3 separate regions of the Homo sapiens genome follow, and all the other regions are linked to region 2. The links come from fine-mapping of genetic effects on gene expression. A gene starts in region 2. Each other region holds a variant in brackets. All regions are shown on one strand. Distances are from middle to middle. Region 1 overlaps QPCT (glutaminyl-peptide cyclotransferase). Region 2 holds the start of PRKD3 (protein kinase D3). Region 3 overlaps NDUFAF7 (NADH:ubiquinone oxidoreductase complex assembly factor 7).

What was found.
Region 1: its variant is fine-mapped to the expression of PRKD3 in whole blood (TOPMed, PIP above 0.99). The same link has a PIP of 0.9 or more in blood mononuclear cells.
Region 3: its variant is fine-mapped to the expression of PRKD3 in whole blood (TOPMed, PIP 0.97).

What each region holds. Positions count from the first base shown.
Region 1 is chr2:37,345,820-37,354,097 of GRCh38, reverse strand. It overlaps QPCT (glutaminyl-peptide cyclotransferase), which reads right to left. Exons shown (of 7, transcript NM_012413.4): 2 at 1,163-1,309. Among named protein-coding and RNA genes, the nearest start is that of QPCT, 5.3 kb to the right of the region's middle. The variant C/A (reference allele first, on the strand shown) is at 3,856.
Region 2 is chr2:37,319,823-37,328,100 of GRCh38, reverse strand. PRKD3 (protein kinase D3) reads left to right here and starts at 3,268. Exons shown (of 19, transcript NM_005813.6): 1 at 3,268-3,420. It overlaps PRKD3-DT (PRKD3 divergent transcript), which reads right to left and starts at 3,020. Exons shown (of 2, transcript NR_183394.1): 1 at 2,579-3,020; 2 at 1,337-1,624. RefSeq lists a silencer at 2,908-3,537 and an enhancer at 4,178-4,257.
Region 3 is chr2:37,240,289-37,248,288 of GRCh38, reverse strand. NDUFAF7 (NADH:ubiquinone oxidoreductase complex assembly factor 7) reads right to left here. Exons shown (of 10, transcript NM_144736.5): 5 at 6,498-6,711; 6 at 5,596-5,654; 7 at 4,316-4,426; 8 at 2,094-2,237; 9 at 660-833; 10 at 1-154. Among named protein-coding and RNA genes, the nearest start is that of NDUFAF7, 13 kb to the right of the region's middle. The variant A/C (reference allele first, on the strand shown) is at 4,883.

The sequences.
Region 1 (8,278 bases), 26 kb before region 2:
GGTCAGGAGATAAGAGACCATCCTGGCCAACGTGGTGAAACCCTGTCTCTACTAAAAATACAAAAATTAGCCGGGCATGGTGGCGTGCGCCTGTAGTCCCAGCTACTTGGGAGGCTGAGGCAGGAGAATAGTGTGAACCCAGGAGGTGGAGGTTGCAGGGAACCGAGATCGCGCCACTGCACTCCAGCCTGGGTGACAGAGCGAGACTCTGAAATCGAAAGGAAGAGCTCAAGAGCTGGGCACCTGCGCCTTGCAGTTCTCAATCTAGGCACAGCAGTGGGTGCCAAGGTCTTTTGCCTGAGGAGTTTCAGAAGAGGATGTGAAGGGCCAGTCCCATTCCTTCCCAAGCGGCCCCTTAAAATGGGGCTAGTTTGAAAAAAACAGATATTCAGAGGTGAGGTTTCAGATTGCTTAGGAAGACTGACATCAGGGAGGCAAAGAGGCATTCAAGGTCTGGCCCAGCTTGTTCTACCCTCCACAACAGTGGTAAAATCAATGGGTCTTGAAATCAGTTTAGTGGGTTATGACCAGCATTTTTTAAGAACCAATAAAATAGAACTGACCATATTGCAGTAAAATGCTGTAAGAATATTTTTCGTGGAAGTTTTGTTTCAGTTAAATATGCCAGTACGTTTGTGTGTATAAAATGTAAAATTCATTTTTTTTTTACTTTGTGTCAGAGTCAGAAGTTTGAGAAGCACTGCCCTGGAGAAATGCGGCTAGCTTATCACCAGCCTTAACTCTCCCTCCAGGGAAAATACAATTTCCCTAAGGCGAGTGATGGCCTGACAGTACAATGATACTCTTGACTTAGAACCTTCAAGCAAGGACTCCCTAAGCCTGTTGCTGTTCATTGTTTAGGATTCAAGAAAACTTAATTGGGAGCCTCGGGGTGTGCTATTGAATGGTCAAGAGTGAAGGACTGTGTAATGTTGTACCCCAAATAGAGATTTCACACATAAACTATTGACATTAACATGTACCACTTAATTCAGAACAGACATGTACTCTCAGTCATTTGATTTTTCTTGGTTGACTATTTGGTGAATGAGGAGATGACAGATCTGAATATTAGACACCTCAGAACTTCAGCCATAACATTATCCCTCATGAGAAAGCACAGTATTCACACAAGCTTGAGGTTTGTGTCCCATGTTCTCACCTGACGAGCAGCATAGCTTCCAGGGGATCCCGGGTATCGCTCTATCAGCAATGGCTGTAAGTCATTTTGCCACATTTCAGAGATACTGGTGCCTTCTGCAATTTGCCGAAGAGCCGATGAATTCAAAATGGCTGGCTGGTGGTAATTCTGAGGATTGAATGAAATCATTTAACTAGCTATCCTTTCATAACATGTTTAAGACTCTGACATGTTTTCAATTAATTGCTTAAAACTTCAAAATAAGGGAGAACTTTATGTCAAATGAGGTAAATTAAACTACTCAACTTTAAAATTGGGCTGTTAGGGCTGGGCACGGTGGCTCAAGCCTGTAATCCCAGCACTTTGGGAGGCTGAGGCAAGAGGACTGCTTGAGCCCAGGAATTTGAGACCAGCCCTGGCAACATAATGAGACCTTATCTCTACAAAAAATGAAAAAATTAGATGGGCGTGGTGACGCATTGGTGCATGCCCGTTGTTCTAGCTACTTAGGAGGCTGAGGTGGGAGGATTGCTTGAGCCCAGGAGGTCAAGGTTGCAGTGAGCTGTGTTACTGAGCCCTCCAGCTGGGCAACAGAAGGAGACCCTGTCTCAGTAAAAATTTTAAAAATAATTAAAAAACCCAACTGTTAGCCTAAGTAAATCTTACACAGTATAGAGGGAGAGTAGTCAGGGAAGACTTTATAGATGAGCCACAAATTAAGGGGTCCTCGAATTTTAATAGGATTTTAATAGCAAGCCTAATTCAAAATTTTATAATGATTACATGTTGAAATGGTAATTTTTTGACATATTAGGTTAAATGAAGTATATTATTAAAATTAATTTTACCCCTTTTTCACTTTTTTAATGTAGCTACTAGAAAAATTAAAATTACATATGTTTCTTTCATAATCTTTTTTTTTTTTTTGAAGTTGGGGTTTCTCTCTGTCACCCAGGCTGGAGTGCAGTGGTGCAATCTGGCTCACTGCAACCTCCACCTCCCGGGCTCAAGCAATCCTCCCACCTCAGTCTCCTGAGTAGCTGAGTCATTATTTCTTTTTTATTATTATTATTTTAGATGGAGTTTCACTCTTGTTGCCCAGGCTGGAGTACAATGGCATGATCTTGGCTCACTGCAACCTCTGCCTCCCGGGTTCAAGCAATTCTCCTGTCTCAGCCTCCCGAGTAGCTGGGATTACAGGTGCATGCCACCATGCCCAGCTAATTTTTGTATTTTTAGTAGAGACGGGGTTTCATCATATTGGTCAGGCTGGTCTCAAACTCCCAACCTCAGGTGATCCACCCACCTCGGCCTCCCAAAGTGCTGGGATTACAGGCATGAGCCACCGCACCCAGCCCTGAGTCATTATTTCTATTAGACAGTGCCAACTCAGATGATTGTTGCAATTCCTTTCAGCCTGAGCTTGGTGAATCTATAGCCAACTAAATAGTAGACTTTTTAACTTCAATTAAAATTATTTTTAAATTGCATTAAAGTTCACATAACATTCAAATTTGTATTTTGGATGACTTCACACATACTGTATATTCTTATGATACTGGTAATGATGAACCATTCATTCATTACATGTTTATCAGGCACCTAATAATGGAATGTGTTACTCCTCCTCAACAGGAAGAGAACAATTGATCAGATGACTTCTTCCCTAAGGGGAAGGATGAGGATGACATAAGAATATTGAATTATTTGGAAGGCAAAACAGAAATTAGGAGAGGCCTATTTTATAGTTCCTTTCAGGACCAGTGTTAGCTGGATACGCTTAAATAGTCATGCAACTATTTTCATTCCATGTGATCGACTCCATGGGACTGGTGTGAAACTGGACTTCAAAGAATGCTTATTGCCTAATTATTTACACTCATCTATACTCCGAGATGGCTGTTTACTTTCCAGTACTTACCATGCAAAGAGCATGGGCTATAGGATCAGACAGACCCTCTCAACTCAGCCTCTCAACTCAGCACCCCACCACCTACTAGCTGTAAATCTTTCCAGGTTACTAAACCTCATTAAGGCTCAATTTCCTCATCTGTAAAACAGAGGTAGTAATACCTGAATCCTAGGGTAAATAGAATTAAGTGAACTAACATATGTAAACTGCCATAGTAAATATTCAATGTGTTAGTTACTATTTCCTTCTATCAAACACTAAAGAGCCATAGAATGAATTTTAAAGTTGGAAAAGCCACTTAGAGATGCTCTAGTCTCCAACCTCCTTCATTTATATTAGTGGAAACTGAGATTCATAGAAACCAGCTGACTTCCTGAGGTTGAAGGAGAGTTACAGGTAAATCCACAAAAAGATCCGCTGTCTGGGGATTTCCAATCCCATGCTAGTTTTACTCTGCCTCACTGTCTCATTTATGCACTTCCAGTTTATTCCTGAATATTGGTGCTGTGCCTGAACATCAGAAGATTTGTCTTTGTTTATTGGTAGGACATTTTTAAATATATTTCCTTGATAAACTTGTCAGTGCAGGCTTTAAATCCCTTGGTACCTCCAGGATCTAAGTCCTCATGCCAGCTCCCAAACAACAGTTGGAAAAGAAAGCTGAAGCTGAAAGACAAAGCAATAGAAATGTGCGAAGGGATAAGAAGAATATGGAGGCAAGAGGTCAGAAGACTTCCATGGTTAATTATTACTCAACCCTGCCAACAGAAGCCTGTCTGGTCTCCCCCCTCACCCTTGCTCA[C/A]CATGCTTCGGTCACTCTGGCATTTGGCCAGGCCCCAAATGCTCTGAGGTTCTGCCCCCATGAGGCTTTGGCATCTGCGGTGCTTTCTGCCTTACAAGCTGTTTCCCCTCCTCTTCACCTGGCTAACTCCTGCTCACTTCAGCTTGCAGCTTGGAGGCCACTTCTTTGTGTGTTTACTTGTTTAATGTCTGTCTTTCATACAAGACATCAGCTCCATAAGGGCTGGAACTCCCTCTCTCTCTGTTGTTTACCTCTCTCTCCCACACAGGCCACACAGGGCCTGGTTCATCTTGAGCATTTGATAAATATTGGGGAAATTAATCAAAAAAGCAATCAACAGATGAACTATCTTTCTAAAATTATCTTTGCTAAGACTGTATTTATATAATAATAAAGTAACATGGGCATTTTTCTGCCACTGTAAATAATAAATCAGCTGAATGCACAAGCAAGCATAAAGACAGAAGAGACAGGTGGCTACCTGCTGCAATGGCCAGGAAGTGCTGTGGTTCAATGTTATTGGGCTTTGCTCTTTTTGAATTTCTGACATTCGATGCTTCTGACGATGAAGAGCTGGGTTGACCCAAGCAGTCACTATGACAACCAAAACTGTTGTGTCAAAAGCTGTTTACCAGTGGCTCCTTGTCTGCTTACTGTCCAATACTCTATCCCAAAGCCCATCTGGTCACTGTGGATAGAAGCTTTCACTCCATGTCCAGAGTGAAACGAAATCACTTGTGTTTAAATGGCTGGTTTCTAGAGGCTTGAAAGAGCTCTTAAGACATTTAAGAAAAAACAGGAACAAAATAAATGCCCCCTCCCCCAAGCATCTTTAACTACAAGAGATACTGCAGATGAAACCTAATTGGCAAATAGCACCAAAAAATGCTTAATGGATGACTAAAGGGTAAATCCAGCAGACAGGCCAGGCCTATTGATGCTTATGAATCTAGAGACTTACATGTGTTTGCTCCTCAACCTCCTGGGCTCAACCATTTAATTAACATACTTCAGTAAAGAGCCCTGACTCTCCTTGCCCCTCTGGGGGCAAAGATGCCCCTGTAAAATCCCAGAGCTAAAAGCTTCCCAGTAACTGAAGGACAGAGAAGAGGAAACAACCAACTACACTCAGTCAACTACTTAAGCCTTCTATTCATTAAAGCCCTGTGTGGAAAAGCATTTGACTTTCCCAACCTAAATAGCATGCATTCAATGTTTGAGGGGTCTTATTCTCAGAACTCAATAGATATACAAATTTAGGTGGAGATGAGATGAATGAGTAAGAGGAAAAAGCTGGAAAGAAAGAGCGAGCTCAGCAGGGGGAAAGTAACTCAGGCAAAAACAAAGTTGAGCCCAATGGTAAATGCAAACCCCAATTTATTGTAGGTTTATCTCAGTTAAAAGACACTTAGACAATTTTCTATTGGTGCAGGTGTTCTCAGAGGAATGAGGCTCTGTTACAGCCCCTGCCTTGTCTTTTCATCCAGACAGAAAGGACAATAAGTCTGCTCTGAGTGCAAGAATCTTTCAGCCAAAAGTGTGAACCAGATATCCTGAAGCATCTCTTCTAGGCTAATCATGTGGTTTTAAAGAGGGTTTTAATTACATAATTGATAGAGTTGGCCCAGCTTGCAAAGGGTTTTGAGGTTCCAAAAGACTGAATTAAAGGGAGATCATTACAGAAATGCAGCCAATGCAAGTCCAGTTTCTATTCTATATGAATGTCTCCCGGGCAATTCTCAGATTAACACCTCTGTCTGTCTGCAAAGTCAGCTCAATCAGCAGTTACTGAACTCCTTCTGTGTGTCGGATGCCACTGATATAAAAAATTCAGTGGGGGAATAGTTAGGAACTGAACAAGACAACATCTGTCTTTTCTAAAATGCAAGCAGCCCTCTACTTAAAAGCAGAGCCGTGCGGGCTTTAACCACAACAGCTTAGGGTGAAATCTCAGCTCCCTCGCTTATTAGCTGTGACTAGGAAAGAGTCCATATCTGTAAAATGGATCTCATGATACTTACCAACTAGATGGTAAGGCTCCAAAATGACATTTTGTCTTTCTGTCCCTACCAACACCCAGCCCCCAACTAACTTCCACGTCACTGCCTGAGAGTCTCCGTCGTTGCTTCCATTAGAATGCAACAACAACAATAACACACACACACACACACACACACACGCGTGCGCGCGCAGAGAGAGAGAGATAGAAATAAAAACACCAAAATGGTTAATAGCCATTATCTCTGAATAGTGGGGTTATGGGTGACATTAGTTTTCTTTTTAGTGTATTTTTCTGTATTTTCCAAGTTTTCTAAAATGAGCACATGTCAACTTTATAATTAGAAGACTTCAATAGAAGGCAGACTTTTTAGTTTATCGAAACTAATATTTTTAAAGAGCATATAAAGCCCTCAAAAGCCATCAGTCATTCGCACCTAAGGAAGAATGATTTAATGAGATTCTGTTTAATAGCTAGTTGACAATGTTGTACTAAAGGAATGGGCCTGTACTAAAGGAATAAGACTGGTGACCAAAAGGCCTGGGGAAGATTCAGAAGAAGTAACTCTGGAATATGGATTAGCACCCAGACTAATGATGACCTTTAAGCTGCATGAAGGAGATCAAGGAAAGGAGAAAATAGGGGGTGTCAGAAGAGAAGGTACCAAAACCAAACTACCTGTTTTAGAATGCCATTTAGGGTCCACCCTGACCCAGAAAGAGAGAGTAAGCTCTTCATCTGGCCCTCCAACTTCCCTGCTAGCCCCACACTTTTTCACTACCTGGGCACTGTTCCGGGTACATCAGCCAGGACTCATCTACCATTAGAAAAGCACAGAAGAAGAAAGGAGAGATCAGGGCTTAAGCCAAACCCTAGCTCTTCAGTTCACTAGTGCAATAGTTGTCAAGTTTCCTCAACCATAAATTGAGGATGAATGTACCTTCCTCATGGGGCTTGCTGTGAAGTTCAAGTGAGGTGGATGTATATATATATATGTTATATATATATATATGTTATATATATATGTTATATATATGTTATATATATATGTTATATATATATGTTATATATATATATGTTATATATATATATATATATAAAACACCCCATACCCAGATGCCAATGCCTCTAAATACACAGGTGTGTGCCCACCTGGGAGTTTAACAATTTATAATATTGTTACTATGGAAAAATTGTTTCCAGGTTTCAAATACATAATCAAATCATGGCCTCTGAATGCCACCATAAACTACAGTTGATCTGCTTTTACATATTCAAAGCCACTGAAAGAGAAACATCTTTATTTCAAAACGAAGGAAATGGATTTCAAAATCAATGCTTTCTTTACCACACCTCACCTGTTAGCAGACCAGTGTACCAAAGACATACATCATATGATTAAAATAGTCGAACACCATAAAAAGTAGGAAGGCACATATTTTAGTGTGGACCGATTCATCACCCAGGCTGCAAGACTTTATGAAGGTCTACAGAATAAGGGGAGGAAGCTAGAAACTGGGAAATGTGATGGCTGATTGTCATTTGCTTTTAATGATTTGAAAACATTCAGTTTCTCAATGGAACAGTGATCAGAAGCTTCTTAAAATAAATATAAAAGGGATTCATGCTTTAAAAGACGTTTCTCAAAAGTTAAATTCTCATTGGTTTAAAATATTTTAAGAATCACAGCACCTTTTCCCACCCATAAATACCCCCTGCCTACACACACCTACAAATGATCTTTTCAGAGTGGTTTGTTCAGTTTCCATCTCATTTATTCCCTTCCATTTAGATGTATCACAAAGATACATTTGGTGTGGCTCCATATTCCAGTCTGTAATGTTCTCTTCCCAATTTCTGACCAGAAGGGTATTCTCAGTGAAGAGAAGGAGAGGATTTTTTGTGTGTCATTCCACGTTCTTCTTCATGGGCCCCCATGGGAAGTTGTTTTCCTTAAAATAAAGTTATTCTTATGTTACAGACTTCCCTCACTACCACCAGGTTCCCTGTGGCCTGTGGTCTCCATGTGTAAGTGGGGCCTGCTGTGACCCCTGAGTGGTGATTACATTAGATCCGAAGAATTGAAATGGGCTATTCATATATATATGCATGTAGCTGGGTGGGAGTGGGCATTTACCAGCGTGCCCTGTATTTCAAACATTTGAGTAAATACAGGCATACTCTAAGTGTGTAAAAGGTCTGCTCAATAACACTGCCAAAGTTTATATCGCTTCACTTTGCTGCTTTTCTTAATATCTCTATAACATACTATTTTATGCTGACATCATTAATATTTGCACAATCCCTTAGCAATTTCATGATTTCAAAACTGTTACACAAGAAAAGGAAGTAATTGTGAACCCATGTAATTGTGAACCCATATACTTCTTTTTTTTTTTTTTTTTTTTGAGACGGAGTCTCGCT
Region 2 (8,278 bases):
ACTATCATCAAGACATATTGAAAAAATTCTCTGATTTAATCAACATTTATTGAGCACTATGCTAAATGATGAATAAATTTAAAAAACGGCCGGGTACAGTGGCTCACGCTTGTAATCCCAGCACTTTGGGAGACTGAGGCTGGTGAATCACTTGAGGACAGGAGTTGGAGACCAGCCTGGACAACATAGTGAAACCCTGTCTCTACTAATAAATAAAATAAATAAATAAATAAATAAAAGATCTGGTCTTCTTCAAGTTCAGAAAAGGGAAGGGCAGATAGCGATCCCAGGAGGATGTGATAAACACTCAGTCCACAATAAAATGTGATGAGCCACATGAGAATTATCTCTCAAGGGCTATCAGAACACAGAACAATTATTGATAGCCTGCAAATCAGACAAGACAGTTCCAAGGATATAACAGTTTGAGCTAGTCTAGGACACCAACTTAAAGTCTGTTGTGGTAATCCAGATGTGAGATATGGACTAGGATAACGGCAGTGGAAACTGAGACAGGACATTTTGAGAACTATATCATCACGTATGTCTCTGCTGATAAAGAAATAGATCCTAAAGCATTTTCTCCCATAACTATTTTACTAACTCTATATTGATACCCAAATGCTTTATTGAATTTTTCAGCTGTGTTTCAAGGTCATGGAAAAAGACACAATCACAAAATAATTTTCCAGTGACCACATTCTATAAATTAAAACCAGCTGCAGTTTTAAAATGATGACAATTTCCTCTAGCTGGAAATTGTCATCAATTTCCCTAGTGAAAAAATTCACTGATTTAATCAACATTTATTGAGCACTGTGCTAAACGATGAATAAATAAAAATAAGGGCCATGCGCAGTGGCTCATGCCTGTAATCCCAGCACTTTGGGAGACTGCGGCGGGCAGATCATTTTTTCCCCCTGCATTTAGGTTTCTAAATCAGATGTCTCTGTTATCTCAAGTCACAAGAGTGTTGACTTTCTTTGCTTGCATTAGGTAACATATTTGAATGGCTATGTTGTGTGTCATTAAGTACAAGGAGCCCAATAATGCGGGACAAGCTCTCCAACTGCAGCCATAGAAGAGCAATATTGTAAGCTCGTTTTCATAAAACACCAGCAAGAAGAAAAATCCTTTCCATTTTGAGCATTCAGATTATATTTTCTCTCAAGGATTAAAACATTTCACATGGCAATACACTTATTTATTAAATTCAATCTTTATCTCTGTAATGCTCAGGAATGGAACACCTTGAGGAAACTGTAGTTCATGTTAAGCAAAAAATTAGATACAAAGATAGTTCTTTGATCAAATGTGCTGAAAGATTTACCCAAAGTGGAGGAGACCGCTTTATTTTTAAAAAGAGAAGCAGAACAGTGGAAATAAAATGAAATATATACATTACATATCTCTGTTTTCACACATGCACACAAATACTTAAATCTCTGTATAACAGCAGTTTGAATCGTCTGGAAAAGTTACTTCTAGGAAGAGTAACTTCTGTCACTTTAAGTACTACAGCAGAAAATGGAAGTTAATAGTGAGATAAGACTGGCTGTAAACTGCTCCAATGAGGTCCTGGGAATCTTGCTCAGAGGCAAAATTTGGGGCTGGACTAAAACGTCTGTTGGGAAGTGAAAGGAAGAAAAGGGCAAAGTTAAGCAAGAGAGTCCTTTAAAAAGAAGGCAAACTTGAGTAAATCTACTTTCAATTTTAAAGTAAAAGAATAGCTGAATAGGACTCTAATAACAAAAATATAGTAAGATTGAATTAGATACTGCTGGATGTAAGACATTTAGCAACTTCCAATTCCTGAGAATGTTTCAGAAATCTTTTTTTAAATAGATTTTTAAATAAAGTAATCAAGGTTTTACACAATCTTACCTGCCTTATGTTTAATATAAATTATCTTAATATTTTCATTTCTTAACTTTAAATCCGAGGACATCCATTAAGAGTGATGATTTTGTATCAAAAGTAGGGGCTAATTTATGTTTATTTTTCTTTCTATTCTTGAAAACTGCCCTCTTGGCTGGGCGCGGTGTCTCACGCCTGTAATCCCAACGATTTGGAGGGCCGAGGCGGGCGGATCTCTTGAGGTCAGGAGACCAGCCTGGGTAACACAGCAAGAGACCTCGTCTCTACAAAAACTAACTTAAAAGTTAGTGGGGCGTGGTGGCACACGCCTGTAGTCCCAGCTGCTTGGGAGGCTGACGCAGGATAATCACTTGAGCCCAGCAGCTCCAGGCTGCAGTGAGCTATGATCGTGTCACTGCACTTCAGCCTGGATGACAGAGTAAAACCTTTTCTAGAGAGAAAGAAGAAAGAGAGAAAGGGGAAAAGAAAGAAAAAGAGAGAAGAAAGAAAACTGCCCTCTTGATTGTAGTCCCTCTGATTGTTTCAATATATTTAAGTACTTTTGGGATAAAATGTTGACATAAGGAGAATCATGTGGCTTCTGTGACAATGCCTGTCAGCTTCTCAGGCCTTTCTCTCACATAAGACATCGAAAATTTATGCACAGTGTATTTTCCCTCTAGATCCTTATGCTGCTGACTCCCACTCCCGCCCCACTCACCCGACACGGTCATACTTTGTTTTGGAGCAAAACAAATGTTAACATTGTGTTTCCAGACACCTGGAAGCCCAGGTTTGGTGATTCTGGACTGCACTCCACTTTGGTGGTAGGGTCACATTCGCGTTTAAAGGCCGACGGGGAGGAAACACCGAGCACCGGGAAAACCCCTGCAGTCACCGGAACGTCGGGCTTGGGACGTGCCGGTTTGGGCGCCGAGCTGCGGTGCCGGCGGCCACCCCGGGGGCAGGCAGCAGGGAGGAGCATGCGGGAGGGCTGTGACATCTCAGGGTGGAAGCAGCTCTCTGCTCTGGACGCCTTACAAGTCCCCCGTTCCAACTATCACCTCTGGCCCATTGTCGCCACCGCCTCCCTCAAGAGTGCACGGCAGTAGAGGAAAAGACAGTACCGTCGGCAACAGCGCGATCAAGTACCGCGTGTAACTGATAGACACGCTCGCGACTCCCGCGGCGCCCCTGCCCCGTGCCCCCGCGCTCACGAAGACGCCCGGAACTCGAGGGTGCGGAGCCAGCCCGACTGTACCCGGCGCTCCCGGCGCCCCTTCGCGGGGCAGAGACAACCCCGACCTCCCGCCGCGGCCACCTCCCGGCGGGCGCGGGCCGAGGAACTACAGCTCCCGGCAGGCCCCGCGCTGGCCGCGCGCCCCCGCCCCCCGCGCGCCCCGGCCCCCCGCCCTCCGGCCCCAGGACGGGACGGGGAGGGAGGGAGGAAGGGGCGCCGGAGGCGGGCGGGATCCTGCGAGGCGCGTGAAGCCTCGCTGGCGCCTCGTCCGGTACTCAGACGCTGGCGGGCGCAGTTTCTCACGACGGGCCGAGCCTGCCACTGTAAGTAGTCGCCTCGGGGAGCGCTGAACAGACACCGAAAAAGTTCGCGCCGCCGCCGCCGCCGCTTTGTTCTCCCGGCCCGTCGGGCTGAGGCGGCGGCGGCCCCTCCCCCATCCCCCAAACCCCCAACCCCCCAACTGCACGCGGCGGCGGCGGCGACAGGACTCGGACCCCGCGCCGGGCTGGGCGGTGTCAGCCGCGCTGGGCGGGAAGTTGGGGGAGCGCGCGGCGGGAGGTGGGCGGCTGAGGGGGAGCGGGGGCGCCGCCGCAGCCGCCAGAGGGGCCAAGTTCCGGCGTCCGCGCGGAGGGCAACTTGGGTTCGCGCTCCGCTGGAGACCACCGCGCCCGGCCCATCGGAGGCGATCCGTTCCCGGGTCTCCCAAACTAGTTCCCGAAGCCAGACCCGCGGCGCTCGCAGTGCCGAATTTTGGACCAGCTTTTTCGTTTCATTTCCTCACTTTGCGTTGTAGTCGTCTCAAAGGGGTGAGTAAATGGTGCTTGGAGAATGTAAGCCCCTCGCCCCAGTATCCCGACTGCGTTTGGATTTGCTAGTTGCAGCATTGTTCCGAGTTGCTCCCTCCTGGGAGGTTTTCCTTAAGCTGAAACACTGAGGAGTGCCACTGTTTCTTTGAGCAGTGAAAATAACCATATACTACTGTATTGCCGGTTGGGTATTTTATTTCAGGTGAACGCAGTCAGAGGCATAGGCCTTGCCGTCTGCAGGCACACATACGATTCAAGCGACAAGTGTGTGCGCGCGACCTGCCGACTTTTCCACACACAGATTGATGGCATGGACGTAACTGTGTCTTCAATCACACCCATCCCCACAGGAAATAAGACTATCGGTGTCATCTTTGATTAGGAAGGATAAGTTACACCCTGAACTGCTGCTTGGTGCGACACAGCTTTTATGAGACATAGCCACAAATGGAACAAGAACTTTTAAATGCCTTAATTTGTATCCTAGAAAATGTTATTTTATTCCTCTGAAACTTTTTTTTTACCCTTCTACTTAATGTCGTCGTTCTTACATTTTTAGCGATTTTCATTTTCCTTAGCTTTGCTGCAGAAGGCGTCCATAAAGTTCCCCCGACTGAGATCTAGGCCAGTTTTTCCTTGTCAACGAACCCTTGCTTCCTTCCCTGTTAGATTCCGAGTTAAGATCAAGCATGGACATTCAGCCAAGAAGTTAGAAGATTTTCTAAAAGTAGGATTTGAAACGTGTCACACAGAAACCGTGGAAGGTTTTTCTTCAGTAGGTAGTAATACAGTTGTGGTGGGCCTGAGTGCATGAGCTTGGAGTACTCCTTGACGAGCCAGGTTCCATCCTCGGTTCTATAATTTAGTATATAGCATTTCACATTTCAGGGTGACTCAGGTTCTGTAATTTAGTATATAGCGTTTCACATTAAGAATGTTGACTGATGTGTATCTTAAAACTAATTTTTTAAGCATCCTAGATAATGGTAAGTCTTTTAGAGAAAATTTTAAGCTTTCAGTTTCATCAGATAGCCACTTTAAAATAGAAATTTCTTTCTGTTCGTGGATTTAAACACTGCCACACACACAGAACTTCATAAATAAAACTTTCTGATATTACATTTTTTTAAATTACGAATTGAAAACACCACATACAGAAAAATATGAATAGGTGGTCATTTAAGTGCAGTTTTCTTAAGGGACATTTTGTTCTCATTTTTTTAAAAGACTCTAAAGTTGAAAATACTACAGTGGAGTTAATTGTTCGTTTTTAAAAGAAACTGCTTGTACAGAGCTTGATATATAAGGAAATTCTTTGCTAGTACAAGTTTTAATTTGATATAATGCTGCTTATAATTCACAATCTTCTGTGATGATTGTACTTTGAGTCTCGCTGATTATGTAATTCAGATCGAACTTGCTATATATATATATGTATCTCTTTGAGTAGCCCTCTCAGGAAAAACTTGAGATAATGTGCTTATGAGATATTTTCATTTTAATGTAGGAAAAAAAATTTTTCCATTTCTGTGGTTAGTTTATTGTGGCAGTATGTGAGAAATTGCTCATTGGCTGCTAACCAATCAGATTTCTTAGCTACTACTGGTGCAGAGACTAACATCTGTCAAGCTCAACATGGATTCATATTGCATTGCCAGACTGGCAGTCCATAATCTTATTACTGGATAAACTTTTCAGTTCCTGAGCAGAGCAGATATGGTGTGCTCTCTCAGTACTCTCTGACAGTGGAAGGACTGAGATTCAACTGTCACTGGTCCAGATGAGCAGAATTTTAGAGGAAACAATTTAGCAAATGCTAAGCTCTTAGGAAAAGTATGTTAATCTAAAGTAATAGGTATTTTTGAAAATATATAAATCATTGTCGGGATTGCTACAAGATATGATTTTTTTAAAAACCAACGACGTAGACACTTGAGTTTTTAAATACAACATACAATATAAAAGCAAGAACAATTACTAAGCAAAGTCAAACCTATGTCAAAACATGGACATGGACTTTAGGACGCTGGTCAGAATTGCATTGAAAAAGGCCACATACTTTTACGTGGTAAAAGAATACTAATATTAATACATGTCAAGAGGCGTGGACACAACCCTCCACGTCATTAGCATTTCTAGTACACAAAACTTAAGTTGAACCTGGAAAACTCTTTACTGGGAGGAATTCATGTTATAATAAATATTGTTATTCCAATAGGAAAAGCATTTTATCTCTTCACTTTAGCCTTTGCTGAGTATTGTACAAAAAGAATGATGCTGCACTAAATAATGAACTTCTTTTTGAAGAATTTAATAACTAGATGCATTTTGCCTTCCTGGAATCCTTTTGTCTGTCTCTTTGCATCGTTGACTCTTGCTTATCCAGAGATCTCAGCTTAAATATTTCCTTAAAGGTACCTTTCCTGAGATTCCAGCTGGAATTGAGTCCCCTTAGTATACTCTGCCATATCACCTCTTGCAGTTTATAATTACCCAGCTGTTTGTATGAATGTTATGTCTGTGTCTCACATCACACTTTGAATTTCAGAGAGAGCAGTGGCCATGTCTGTTTCGGTCACTGCTCTATAACTCCAGTGTCTCTCATAACAGTCTGGGAAATAATAAGTACTAATTAAGTATTTGTTAAGTGGAAATACTGCTGTTAGAGCTTCTCCTAATTAGAGTGTTAAAAATGAGATAATGTGTGCATGGGGGAAGGGGAAGGAGAGGGAGAGGAAGTAGATAAACTTGTGATATTACCGTGAGATAATCCTCAAGTAAGTCCTCTCACCTCCAGGGCCTTTGTTTCACCTTGTCTGTAAAATAGGACAGACTGGGTTCAAGATGCCATTAATATCCTATATTTTGATTCCAGTAACAATGATGACAGATTATGTAAGCTCATTTGAATGGAATATGTGACAGCTAGCTCCCCAAAAGAATATTTGACAAGTTCTAAATAAACATATTAGAAATGCTTGCCAACTAGATGATATTATTTAGAGCCTCGTACCCCTGTTAGAAACAAGCATATATAATTGGTATATAGTTTGTAAATTAATAAGATGTACTCTTCTTTCAGTTTTCTAATTGAAGCGTAAAGACAAAATTAAGCAGCATATCAAGGTTCATGTAAGTTACAGTTATTAGGTTTAATATTTAGTTTTAATATTTTTCACCCAACATCTTGTTGCATCTTCCAGAGTAAATCTGGGGTCCATAAACCAAACCAGGAGAGGGAAAATGGAAAGAGTGGGCAGAAATCTGACAGCTCTTAGGTTTCTTCTATTTGTGTTAATACTGAGACTTTTAAAAATCATTTTTATATGTAGTGTTTATTATGAATAGTTGTAATTTGTTCTGATAAATTAGTTGTATTAAACACTGTTATTTGGCTAATATTACTAGGTATAATAAAATGATATTTAGTGGGAAGACATTCATCAAAGTAGAAGTAGTTAATTTGGGCCAGGTGCAGTGGCTCACGCCTGTAATCCCAGCACTTTGGGAGGCCGAGATGGGCGGATCACTTGAGGTCAGGAGTTCCAGACCAGCCTGGCCAACATGATGAAACCCCGTCTCTACTAAAAATCCAAAAATGAGCCAGGTATGGTGATGTGCACCTGTAATCCCAGCTACTGGGGCGGCTGAGGCACAAGAATCGCTTGAACCCGGGAGGCGGAGGCTGCAATCAGTCAAGATCGCGCCACTGTACTCCAGCCTAGGCAACAGAGCAAGTCTCTGTCTCAAAAAAAAAAAAAAAAAAAAAAAAAAGTCGTTAACTTGCATACAGTTTTATTCATAGATATTTTACTACTTTATTTTGGTAGTTCATCTTATAAAAACTACTTAAGTCAGATACGTTGTGGAGCTCATTACCTCGTGAGACAACCTGTTCCATTGTTAGGTTGTTGGATATGGAATAATGTGGTAGAAAGAACTTGGGCTTTGGAGTCAGGGAAACTAGTTTGAATCTCATTTCTATCACTTACTAGCTATAGTCACAGGCAAACAACAGCTTCTCTAAAATTCTTGTTTCTTTTCTGGAAAATAGAGTTAAACCTCCTAGAGTTGTTGCAAGGATTTAATAAAGTATCATATCTCACTTTATGTGTTTAGCATAAAGTAAAGGCTTAGTTGTTAATTCCTTCAACTAATTGCTGTGAAAATTGCTAAAACTTACTGAGCACTTACTGTTAGCCAGGTGTTGTTACAGATAGTTTGTACCCCGTAGCTCAATCCTTGCAACCTGTGAGGTTAAGTAAGAAGTGCTCTCATCTTCATTTTTCGTCTACCCTCTGCAGTGATACTGAATAAAATCAATTCTCCTATTAACACTTATTCAAGTATTTGAAAACCACTTATTCTGTTTGGT
Region 3 (8,000 bases), 80 kb after region 2:
CATTCCTCTGATATCTTCCACCTTGAAGTCTCTGATGAGGTAGCAAGGCAAAAAAGTTAAATCTCTCTCCCATCTTCTTTGGATTCATTAACATATCATATCCTTGAAGTAACTGCTGCCTCACTGATGGCTCATTTGATTTATCTAAAAGAACCTGAAAAGAAAAAAATTCTTAGCAAAAATAACCAGAAGACAGGATTCCTAGTTACATGCAGCAATACTAATGACTCTCAAATATTCCAATAAAACAGCACTCAAAATGTGACTTCTGATTACCTGCCTGAGAATCATAGAGTACTTATTAAAAATGTAGATTGGTGTGAAACAAACCTAAGGATTTGCATTTTTAACAAATATCCTCAGGGGGTTTGATCTACAGTAAGGTTTAGGTGTTCTCAGAAGAACAGTTAGAAAATTCATACCCATAAACGCAGTTTTCTTAACAAACAAAAACACTATTTGGAAGTCTTAATGCTACCTCCCATGGAGATGCATAAAACTTACCAGACTAGTTACTAAATCCTATACTACCTGAAAAGACTGGAATACCAAGGATTGGCTAACTACAAGAGCATTAAGGCCAGGTGAACATACTATTTAAAGTAATTTTTGAAATACTATGAAAGTACTTAATAACAGTGAAATAAAATAAACCTTACCTTCAGCCGGACATCAATACCCATATTTTTTAAAAATGTGTGTTGTTTTATTGGGCCCAGAGAGGCTACTTTTCCCTGTGCCATTCTTCGCAAATAACTGAAGTCCACATCAGCTGTTAGATCTGCTGTTCCTGGGGCAATTAAGACATCATGAAGCTTGTGGTCGCAAAACCCCTTGAACATAAAGAAATCAGATTTTTGCCCTTTTATGGTTATTAAGATTAAAGAAATGCTATCATATTAAAGTTATTTAATATTTACATTAATGCTTGAGGTGACGGAATAGAGCTCTCATTAATTCTCTAGGCAGGGAACACCTAGGCAGTGTTTTACAAAGTATATGCATCAACCATGCATCAGAATCACCTGAGATACACTACAAACTACTACACAGCCATAAAAAAAAATGAAATCACGTCCTTTTCAGCAACGTAGACATAGCTGGAGGCCATTATCCTAAGTGAATTAATGCAGGGACAAAACCAAATACCACATGTACATCTCACTTAGAGCTAAACACTGGGTACACGTGAACATACTTATGGGAACAAACACTGGTGACTACTAGAGGGGAGACAGGAGGAGGGGAACAAGGGCTGAAAATCTATCTACTGAGTACTATGCTTGCCACCTGGGTGACAGGCTCACTCGTACCCCAAACCTCAGAGTCAATGCAATATACCCATGTAACAAATAACAAACCTGCCTCATGTACCCCCTAAATCTAAAATAAAAGTTGAAATTACTTAAAAAAAAATCACCTGAGAATATATTACTGACCCTAACCAGACCTGGTCAGTCAGAATCCTGGAGGTAAGGCTAGAGAATGAGTATTTTCAACAAACTATCCAGGTTATTTTTAGATAAAGTTAGAAATTAAGAACCACAGACCTAGAAAATGACTAAGAGCATTTAGTTAAATGTTTTTCAATTAAAGTATATTGAATAGAATTGATTATATTCAAAGATCATTAAGAAAGGATGTTTAGGAACAGTGTAAAAGAATACATCTGGAAAGGGAAAAAATGTTGAAAATATGATAGAAAAAGCTAGAATGATTACAGTAGGTAGTTTAAATCTGTAAAGAAGTACCAAAATTTTTCTTGAATGAAGGGGGTTACAGATAGGTTTAAGAATGTGAAGAAAATCTTTCCATTTGTATTATTCAGCTGCTTATCTGGATTTATATAAACATAGGTTCTACAACTAAGGAAGAATGTACACAATTCAGATCCTGTTAAAGGAGGGCTGGACAGTAGACTCAGTGTTAGCAGTAAGAACTAGGGTTAAGGGGAATTACAATAACATGAATTAATGTTAACTATAAAATAATGTAATACAACAATACCAGGCACTGTAGAAATCAAAGCTCTTCAATGGGCTTCAGATCTAACACTGAAATTCTGATAAATCATGTTACTGAATTATACATACTCTGAAGGTATCTGTCTTTGTTCCATCATGACCATAATCAGCAACCAGTGCAGCACCTCCAGTTAATGCAATGCGTTGAGAAAGTTCCTCGATGATAACACCAGCATCAGGACACACTTCAACATGATCCCTTGTTTCGTCATGCTAGTAAAGGGATCATTGCAAGAGTCAAAATGCATCATTCAAAAGAATGACTTCCTTACGGTTTTTCAGGTTTTTCCTCAATGAGCATTTCTTAGTTTTAATAAAAATAAATTCTTAATATGAGTATGTTCTCTACACTCAACTTTTCACCTGACTCCCTTTTTATTATACAAAACTCCTTAGTTCTTTGATGCTATCCCACTTGATATACAAAGACATTTTAATCTCTTTTATAAAAAGGCAAATGCCCTCCCAATCCCCCCAGATGGCCTAGAGCATTATCATTTAATGTAAAATTACTTTTGTATCACAAATCATATAAACACATTCCTCTAGGTTGAAAGCATGGGAAAGGGATTTTTTTTGTCTGCCTAGAACAGTGCCAGGCACATAACAGTCAATGAAAATATTGTGCTGAAAGAACAAATGGTATAAATCCAATAACACGAAGCAGACCCTATTAGACAATTATATTATCATGCCCTCTGTTGTGCCAGAAAGTATCCCAATGATATGCCCTACATCAAGAAACGCTGGCTTATAAACTAGTGCCAATGTATTGAAACCGTTATTACCCCAAGATGTCCACTTAACTAAGGGGCCACAATAAGTGTGTACTAGCTTAAAAAGCAAAATCACACTAAGTATTAACACTTGTCAACCTGACTAGTATATATGAAATTTCACTACTTCCTGATCTGATTGAAAATGTGGTATTTCTTTCCCTTCATTATGAAAACATACATTAACTTGTACTCCTTCCTAACACCTTATTATAGAAATGCAGTAATGACCTGCCCTGATGTCTGCCTATGGTAACAGGCATAGAGTCAGATGAAGTTAAATCTCAGCTCTTCCTATGCTTACTGGTAGACAAGTTACTTAAACTTTCTGAGTTGTTTTCTTCCTTATAGATATTGTAGGTTTATTGTGAGGATTAAATATAACTAACCATTTAGCTAATAGTGCAATCAAATTACTGTGGCTTAACTATAAAAACCATGAAGTCAGCCTCATCAGGCATCAGTGGACACGCTGATCATGCTGACATTCTATCTTAGGCTACTCTTCAAGATGACATGTATTACCACGCATCTCATTCAAGTGAAAGAGAATATTCGCTCCCTCCCTTCCTAAGTGAATACTAATTAGGTCAAGAACTAAATGAACTCCCAGGGCCAGGAGGTTAGTTCTTGGTAGTTCTATGAATATGTCATTCAGGTAAACTTAGATTGCTATACTATGAAAAAACAGGTGTTCATAAGTGTTCAGTCTGACATTTAAATTTATACTTAACAAAACTTAATTCATACATTTAAGTTTAAAAGCTCTTGTGCTTTTAAAACTGATAATTTCTAAGTAAGAAGTTCTCAGTTAAGGTCCAGAAAGTAAAAATCATCTTCTGAGCTGGAAAAAAAGGATTAAAAAAAAAGAGGCAGTCTGAAGCCTGGACGTTCCTGAGAAGTACAGGGATTTTTTTGTACCTTTAAACAAGCCACAATAGACAGGCTCTTGCAATGATTCCTTGAGATCAACAGAAAGCAGTAGTAATTCTACCATTCTGGCCGAATCAAACTGAGATCTGTGTGGAAGCATGGGATAAAAGCCATGCTGTAGCCCAAAGAAGGATAATAATAGAACCTACCTAATATAGTTGCTTTGAGAATTAAATGAGAAAACAGAGTAACACAAAGTACTCAACAAACGTTAGCTGTTATTGTTAATTTACTATAGTCTGTACTACATTGCTTTCACAGATGTAAACTCTTCCTGTGGACAATACCATTACCATTTGACATGAAACTGAGATAAGCAGTGAAAGTAAGAGACTTGGCTGAGTAAGCGGTTACTTACTTTCTCTTACTACATGACGTTAAGGTCACACACTTAAGAAATGATTTTAACCCATGCTCCTGCCTCTAGCTCCTCTGCACTTTCACTGTCAATAAAAAGCACCTCGTATGCTACTAGCAACTCTTCCTGTAAAGGAACTCTAAAACTCTAAAGTAGTAACTCAGAAAATAAGACTTTGAAGATTCTGTGAGCAATAAAAGAAACTTAAAAAAGCATATTCTTACTTGTATGAAGGCTTCTGCTGGGGTGGCAGAAGGTGCCAAAACAAACCTCAGTTTATCAGAAACCTGTGGATCAATGTCAACAAATACTTCTCGCCATCCCTGTGGTGTTTTCTAAACACAAAATAACACATAAAAACAAATTTTTGCAAGTTTGTTCTCTACATTGCTTCTACCAAAAATAGCTTTTTCTCCTCTTACCATAAGTAACTAACATTTACAGAGAACTTACTATTTAAAATTACTTAAATTCATTACTTCATTGCCTTTGAACAATGAGTAGACCAATCGATGCAAAAGAAACAATAACAGAGATGACGCTGTGGAAGATAAAATCAGCAGCATGGAAAGTACCCCAAAAACGGAAATAGACTCAGGAAGAACAGCCAGAAGCTTTACTAACAAATTACTACAGGATCATGAGAGCTGCTCTTCTCCTCACAAATTACCAGTACATATACATTATCACCAAATCTTAAATCTCCTCACAGAAAGAATGAAGAAAAGTTTTATTATTTTTTTTTTGAGACAAGCTCTCGCTTTGTTGCCCAGGCTGGAGTGCAGTGGTGC[A/C]ATCTCAGCTCACTGCAACCTCTGCCTCCTGGGTTCAAGTGATTCTCATGCCTCAGCCTCCCTAGTAGCTGGGAAGTACAGGCACGTGCCACCAAGCCCAGATAATTTTTCTATTTTTAGTAGACACAGGGTTTTGTCATGTTGGCCAGGCTGGTCTTGAACTCCTGACCTCAAGTGATTCACCCACCTCGCCCTCCCAAAGTGCTGAGATTACAGGTGTAAGCCACCATGCCTGGCCCAAAAAAGTTTAATCTATAATTTTTTAAAATGTGCTAAGGTTGGCTGGGTGCAGTGGCGCACACCTGTAGTCCCAGCTCCTTGGGATGCTGAGGCAGGATGAACACTTGAGCCCTGGAGTTCAAGACCAGCCTGGGCAACATAGCAATACCCTATCTCTTAAAAAAGAAAATTTTTTTTTTGCTTAAGTAAATCCTTCATTGCACCACAGCCAGTTACCATCTTACCATTTTTCATTCCCTTACTTCTTCAAATCAGAAGAATTAAGAATTCTTAATAATTATCCCAGGAGAACTAACAATTCTCATTAATATTTCATTTTTTGCTTTTGAATTATTTGTGTACCAAAATTCCAAATAATAGTTAAAAATAACCTCAACAAGTAAAATTTGTATACTGAATAAATACCATAAACATTGGCAACACAATGCCTTTTGTATTCAATTATAGACATGACTTTTTTCCCCCCTCAATACCTGAAATTTATGCACAGGAAGAACATCAAAAAATTCATGTGCAAGATAAAAGCTGTACCCTATTTAAAAAGAGGAAAACAATTAATGTTTCCACATTTCACAGGAATTAATTCTTTTGAATATTAACTGTAAAAAAAATGCCTACTTCCTCCATAATCATCACTACCACAGAATTATCTACCTCTTCATGGAAAACTTACACTGCAGAACATAGAACAATTATTACTATTCTTATTTTACACATAAATGGGGTCAGAAAATGGAAATACCTGAAATAGCAGTTAAAGCTTTTATTCATCACAAGGCTTGAAAGAAATTAGAAGTCAGAGTTGTTAGCTGGAAGGGAATTTGATTTCATAAAATCGGGCTTCTCAGCCTGAGAAGGCTGAGGCAGGAATGGCTTGAGATCCCTTACCCAAGATCGTACCCCCACTTTGGCTTTGAGTCAAGACTCAAACTAGTCAATACTAGTCAGTATTCCTGACTAGTACAGGGATTTTCCCCCACACCTTGCTTGTCTTTAGGCAAGTAAGGATTTTTTAAAAGACTCTATAACTGAACTAAACCCACCTACTAACACTGCTTCCATCAGCCCCAGCTGCCTTGGGCTGCTCCGTCATCGGTACAACCCTAGCTATAGGGAAATACTCAAAAGTACAAAGGAGATTTACATTTTGTTTGGGATTTTACAAAGCTTCATGAAATAAACTACTACTTAATGTCAGGCAACTTTATTTTCTATTAAGATGCTCTTTTCTAGAAAAAAGTAGGCTACTCTCTATGGATAAGGGACTTGGCAGCAGTAACTCAATCTATTATATTGCTGTAAAAAGTTACAGTCCCATCAATACTGTGAGGGTTGTGATCAAAATTCTTTCATTAATCCACATAAAGGTAATTACCTTTTGGAACATCGTGCAGATCTCGGTACCAGGAAATTGGAATCCCAGACTTAGTGACACCTTTCATATACACTGGGGATCCAGCATTTCGCTCTAACGGGACCTTCTCTTTAGTCAGTGTCAATGCTTGAATCTCACTTAATTTTTGGCTTACCTCTACCAGATGTACTGAAATGTCACAATTTTTCAGCACAGATCCAAGTTGAGTGAACACCTAAATACCAAAAGAAGAAAAAAAAATACAATGTGTTAAGTAGGTTTTAAGTTTCCTAATCATTTACATCAATGATTTAGTCATGTCACAATAGAGGTAATATTTCAGAGAGATGTGTTCCTTACCCAAGCCACTCTCCAGCAGTCTATAAGAATCCTAACCTACTAGTTATTAAGCATAATCTAAATAAGAAATGAACAATGCACAATTTGGTTTCCTAATGATAAATTATGATTAACAAATGAAAATAAAAGATTTGGCATCTGATAAAAACAATGATTCAGATTATGGAGTCTAAAAAAAGACCAAGGAAATAAAATGTACACAGCCTTGATTTGATAACATCTCTAGGTCTAGGAAGTAATCTCATCTTTGAGATGATGAGAACTCTAACCTCAAAGAACCAAATCTGAATGGTACTGAAAACCTGACTGCTTAACTCGGGGGTCTGCCACATTTTCAATCTATATTTAGCTACACATTTTTTCACTGTTGTAAACATGCAAGGGAAAAAGGAAAATACTAATATTTTACCAATCTTTTAAGGCTAAAAAATCAATAGCAAAAGCATAAAGTGTATCAACATTATTTTTCATTTGAATTTAATTTCTACTGGTGATCTGCCTCCAATTAATACTTTTGAGATATGAATATGCACATCCAGACTGATAATATGAACAAGATGATTTTTCCAAATTTAGTTTTGAGATCGAAATACAAATGGAAAAACTTCCCAGGAGAAATTCCTTCAGAAGGTAACATCAAAAATAAAACAGGTCTGACACTTCTCTGGCTATTTGCTTTACAACCCTTTAAATTCTTTGGCTTTTAGGACTTCTTATGACTCAGTCTGGAAAAGCATCCTTCATACATTTTAAGGGCTCTGGAATCAACTTTTAAAGTACTTGAACAAGAGAATATGATTTGAGGTCCTTATTAAATATTTTATATTCAAATGACCTTGCTGAAAAACATAAAATAGAGCCCTGGAAATTTAAATTCGTGATTTTGTTTTCTTTCTTCACCCAAATAATCAAGATTCTTATTTGTCATATGTTTATATATTTTATATATTTTTTAAATCCTTTAATTTCTAATTTAAAGCAAAAACCATAAAGCATCAAGAAATTTAAATTTATATTGAGTATGTGTTGGTGTTTTTTGGTTTTTTTTTTGAGACAGGGTCTCACTTTGTTACTCAGAGGCATAATCACAGCTCACTGCAGCCTCAACCTCCTGGGCTCAAGCAATCCTCCCATCTCAGCCCCTCAACTAGCTTCGACCACAGA